Linked DNA regions of Homo sapiens: region 2 is linked to region 1. Evidence: fine-mapped expression QTL. A gene starts in region 1. The other region holds a variant in brackets. All regions are shown on one strand. Distances are from middle to middle. Region 1 holds the start of SNX31 (sorting nexin 31). Region 2 overlaps SNX31 (sorting nexin 31).

Evidence for each region.
Region 2: its variant is fine-mapped to the expression of SNX31 in tibial nerve (GTEx, PIP above 0.99). The same link has a PIP of 0.9 or more in esophagus muscle, skeletal muscle, stomach and visceral fat.

The regions. Positions count from the first base shown.
Region 1 is chr8:100,648,656-100,651,638 of GRCh38, forward strand. It overlaps SNX31 (sorting nexin 31), which reads right to left and starts at 1,010. Exons shown (of 14, transcript NM_152628.4): 1 at 794-1,010; 2 at 619-693. The coding sequence starts at 859.
Region 2 is chr8:100,615,683-100,618,182 of GRCh38, forward strand. It overlaps SNX31 (sorting nexin 31), which reads right to left. Exons shown (of 14, transcript NM_152628.4): 5 at 1,938-2,048. Among named protein-coding and RNA genes, the nearest start is that of SNX31, 33 kb to the right of the region's middle. The variant C/T (reference allele first, on the strand shown) is at 1,281.

The sequences.
Region 1 (2,983 bases):
CTAATAAATCAGTCTGCCTCCCAGAGAAAATACTGTCAAGACAGCAGGGTGAGAAACTATCCTAGCTTGGTAAGTCATGTTCCCTGGTTCCCAGCCTGCCAGTACTTGAAGCCTCATGGCCATTCAAAAACAAAACTAGAGACACACCTTTTTAAAGGGGGCAAACTTAAGAAACTCTCGAGACAAAGGAGATTAAATACCCATGTACAAGACTCCAAAGACTCTAGGCCTTGATCTAGACCCAGTTTCCAAATTTTGGAGGGAAGCATTGTCCTGGGGAACAGCGGGCACTGAAATGGGGCCCAGCATAGCCCCAGCGCCCTGCCAGGCGGCGCTAGCGGGGATCACCCGGCTGCAACTGCGAGGGGCTTGGAAGAATCACCTGCGCCCGGTTCCCTCATCTCACAGCTGTAGGCGACCAGGAGCCGCAGCATGCATTCATCCAACTGTATGCCAAGCAATTCAGTTCATCCTTACCAGGACCCTGTTTCACAATAGGAAGCCCGAGGCCGTGAAAGGCCCAGTGTCTTGCCAGAGTCAGAGGAACAGAGCGCTTTGGGGACAGCTTTCTCCACCTGTCTCAGTGGATGGGCTCGTACCCGCCTCCAATCTGCTCACCTGTTCGTTCCAACCGTGCAGCTGGCTGTAGCGCACCCTGCAGAAGAGGAACCCGTCCAGGTGCACGGAGTACAGCTGCAAACACACAGACACCCCGTCCCTGGTGAGCCGAGGGATAAGTGAGCATTGCCACCGGCCCCCTCCCTGCCCACCCTGACCCCAGCCCTGGGCGCACCACGTAGCGGCCCCCCAGCGCGTCGGACCGCTGCTGGGACACCGGGATACAGAAATGCATCTTCATGGCTGAGCGGTGTCTTGGGAGTAGCGCTGGGAACCCGACCTGCGGCGGCGGGCGGTGCGCGGCTCTGAACTCGGCAGCGGTGGACGCAGCGCGGCCTGCCACGCGACTCAGAGCGAACCCCGGCGCCCGCTCTCGCCGGCCGGGGACATCTACAGGTGGGGCCGGGGCCGGGCCGCGCCGCCTCCCAGTCCCCGCCCCATCCAGCCCCGCCGCTCTGGTCCCGGGATAGGTGGCGCCTGGGGCTGGGGCGCATCCACGGCCACCCCCACCCCGGACATCGGCCACTGTTGGCATTTTCTCCAAGAAGGCCCGTGAGGGGCTTGAAAACAGTTTGTGTCCCATTACCTGCCAACGCTGCCTGCAGTGCACTAATTAAGATTTCTGTAATTACATAGATCTAGTAACTGCCTTATGATTAGCAGAGTTATGTTTGGTCAGTTTTTTTGTACTGACATTTGTTAAATGTAACACAAGACATGCAGCAATATATGCAACCTTGCTTTCGTATTATTCTTTCAATCTTGTTTTTTCCCCTTAAAATACCAGAAGCCCCCCCCAAATGGAAATGGCTTGGGTTTCTCTTGATCCCTGAGAAGCCCTCATTTTTAGACAGGTGCATTCACATAAACACTTGGTTCTCTGGACTACCCAGTGCAAGTTCTTTCAACAGTCTCTCATTTTTAGTTGCTGTGGAAAATAATCTTCCTAATTCTCTATTTTAGTTAAATGAAACTAGAATTCCTCCCACCTTGCCGTGATCACAGAGCACAGAGATGCTGCAGCTCTCACCAGCCTGTTCTGTAGCAAGCCTGGGCTGGCTCCGTTCTTCCCTCTCTCCTTTAATCTACCCGTAACTCTTCCAGGTAAACAGAGGACATCCTACCACGGACAAAACAGGCCCAGGGGGTGGAGGAACTTGTCCAAGCTCACAGGGCATTTTTTTCATGGGTCTGAGTCGTTTACTGCAGGATTTCATCAGGATCATTGAAAGTCCTTTCAAATGCCAGTCATCCCTGGGGTAAGAGCTGCATGCCTGAAACGGGAATCCGAGACTAAGGAAGGAGAAGCGACGCCTGCCAAACACCGGTGCCTCCTGCGTGCTTGCTGGGTGCCAGGACCTGACATATGCTATGCCATTTAATTTTCACAAACACCTGTGGGCTAGGAGCCATTGACAGTTCTGGTCTTATAGAAAAGGAAATTGAGGCTAGGGCCATTAAGTGAGGGAAGCAGTATCATATAGTAGTTAAGAGAATGGCAACAGGAATTCATGTCCCAGCTTAGTGGCTTCTAGTTGAGAGGCCTTGGGCAAATTAGTGTTTTTTGTGTTTTTTTGTTTTTTTTTTTTTTGTTTTGAGACAGAGTTTTGCTCTGGTTGCCCAGGCTGGAGTGCAATGGTGCGATCTCAGCTCACCACAACCTCTGCCTCCCGGGTTCAAGTGATTTTCCTGCCTCAGCCTCCTGAGTAGCTGGGATTACAGGCATACGCCACCACACCCGGCTAATTTTGTATTTTTAGTAGAGACAGGGTTTCTCCATGTTGGTCAGGCTGGTCTCAAACTCTTGACCTCAGGTGATCTGTCCACCTCGGCCTCCCAAAGTGCTGAGATTACAAGTGTGAAATTAGTGCACTCTTTAAGCTGCAGTTCCTTCTTATGAAATCATGTTAATAACTCTACTTACTTCAAGGGAATTTTCAGTCCAGGATAGATGGGCCTTAGGGTATTTCCCCTGCCCATAGGCCATCTCTGATCTGGAAGGCCTCCCTATACCAAGGCCAGGGGTATTCCTGAGTGCCTCTTGGGACAAAGCCTGATCACGGCAGCTCTGGAATCTGGTCTGATCTTCAGGGCAAAGCAGAGCATTTTGGTCAGACCCAGAAGTGGCCCCAGCTTTCCTGGAACTTTCCTGCTCCAGTGAATGGCCTGGACCCTGGTTTCACCCCATGGCATGTCCAAACAGGGCCATTTCCTTCCTTTCACTAAGTGCCCCCCTGGAGTTGAACTGGAACAGGACAGGCCTCTGTGCAAGTCACCGTCCTCTTGCATCCCTGACCTCTGCTGTAGCCAGTCAGCTCTTATTCAGTCATTCAGTCAGTGAACATTATTGAGCTCCTTCTGTGTA
Region 2 (2,500 bases), 33 kb before region 1:
GTATAGTAGGCATGTTACTGTACTAAATACTCTAGGCAACTGTAACATGCTGGTAAGTATTGGTGTATCTAAACATATCTATTGTTATTATTATTATTATTTTTGGAGACGGAGTCTTGCTCTGTCGCCCAGGCTGGAGTGCAGTGGCGCGATCTCGGCTCACTGCAAGCTCCGCCTCCCGGGTTCACGCCATTCTCCTGCCTCAGCCTCCTGAGTAGCTGGGACTACAGGCACCCGCCACCACGCCCGGCTAATTTTTTTTTTGTATTTTTCAGTAGAGATGTGGTCTCACTGTGTTAGCCAGAATGGTCTCGATCTCCTGACCTCGTGATCCGCCCACCTTGGCCTCCCAAAGTGCTGGGATTACAGGCGTGAGCCACAGTGCCTGGCCAAAACATATCTAGACATAGAGAAAGTACAGTAAAATATTGTATCATAAACTTATGGGACCACCATTGTATATGCAGTCCAATGTTGACCGAAACGTCATTATTATGTGGCACATGACTGTAATTTGAATCCAGGACTCATCCTAAACCCAGAAGATAGGAGACCCCAAACTATCACCACCACCACTGGCTTCAGCTGCAGGCATGTCTAGTTTGGTCAGCAAGCCCAGTGTGTAAAAAAAGAAGTCAATGATGATGTCTTTGGGGAAGGCAGGTGCTCTCTCCTGTTCTATATCTGATCCTGCAGCTGTACCCCAGAGCTACCTGCCTGGCCCCAGACACATGCAGTCTGTGGCTCCCACTCTATCACTGCCTTCCTACTCCTCCTTCATTTATGAGTCTGTCTCCCACTTCTAGATCCTGAGCAATTGAGGTTTTTGTGTTTGGGGTACAAACTCCCTCAAGCATCAAGGGCTTTTGATACTTTTTAGAAAGACTATGCTGGAAATCAATACAGAAGATTAGCAAGACTGGAAGCAGGGAGACTAGTTTAGGGGCAGCTGTAGAGATCTAGCTGGGAAACAATGAGGGCTGGAGCTAAGGTCAAGATGTAGGATCGAGAGGAGGAAACGGAGAGACGATGAATATAAGAGAGACTGGAGATACAGGAATAGGTTAAGTCAAGGCAGGCCCGAAGAGCTAGCAGCCAAAATGGGAGTGCTTCCGTTTCTCAGCTCAGAAAGGGTCAGACACCATAACCCAAGCACAAGAACGTTCTGTCCTTTGAAAGGTCCTAGAAACTTTCTGACTCTTCTTCATGTTTATAACTTTGTCTTTTCTCTTGTATGTTTCTCTGGAGGATTAGAGCTAAAACCTTCCAGAGGAAAAGGG[C/T]CTGGGAGCTTGCCCCCAGGCAGCAGGATGTGAGTGTGAGAAGACAGTGTCCCCTCTGCAGCCCCACTCAGCAGATGGAAAAGGGGTCTGGGAGGCAGAGCTGCTGAAGAAGGATGAAGCCTTCTGGGTCTTGTCCTATTAGTCCTCAGACAGTGGACTACAACTCATGTCTGGGCCCTCTGCACCCAGAATTAGCCCTGATGGAGCACTGGTTTCAAGAATTTTCCCTGTGGGAGAATAGGAACCTTCAAGAACTCCCCTGTCACCTGCACACCTAGGTATGACCTGTTTCAGACTCTGCCAAGCCCCACTTTCCTTCCTGCTCCCAACGATGGGACATCCAGTAATAAAGCATTTTACATATTTCCAGGCCACATCCCTGGCTAAGTTCCAAGGAAGTGACAGCAGCCTTCCAGGAGATCTCTGGAAAATTGGTGCCCCCAGGGAGGGTGAAATCAAAGAGGCCCTGGAGGATTGGCTGTATCTTAGGTTCCTTGGTTGTTCTCCCAGCAAATGCCAGTACCTCTGCAGATAATCATCCACAGAGTAAAACAACAGGCCAGAAGCTCCTGGAAGGTAACCGTATCCCATTCTCTGCTTTCCAAACAGAACCATCCCTAGATTCAGTTCTGGAGCTGGAGTTTAAACAAAGCTTACCTCTAGGACTCTTTCAGCAGTGTCTGATGTTATAATTTCGATTCTAATACTCTGTTCATTGGGCAGAAATATGTCCAGATAAGCTTTCTTGGTGGCGATGTCAAATGTATTCTATAAGCAAAAGAAAAGCAAAATAAATTTCCACACCTTTTTTTTTTTTTTGGAGGCGGAGTCTCACTCTGTTGCCCAGGCTGGAGTGCAATGGCGTGATCTTGGCTCACTGCAACCTCTGCCTCCTGGGTTCAAGTGATTCTCCTTCCTCAGCCTCCCAAGTAGCTGGGATTACAGGCACCCACCACCACGTCCAGCTAATTTTTTGTATTTTTAGTAGAGACGGGGTTTTACTGTGTTGGCCAGGCTGGTCTCAAACTCCTGACCTCAGGTGATCCACCCTCCTTGGCCTCCCAAAGTGTTGGGATTACAGGCCTGAGCCACCACGCCCGGCCTCCACACCATTTTTTAAAGCTGCACCATTGCAGCAAGCGAACAATCCACAGCTTCCTTTTTTGGTGCTCTTCTAGCATATGGTACCCAAAGTTCCCAAGAGACAAGTGCAGAGATTG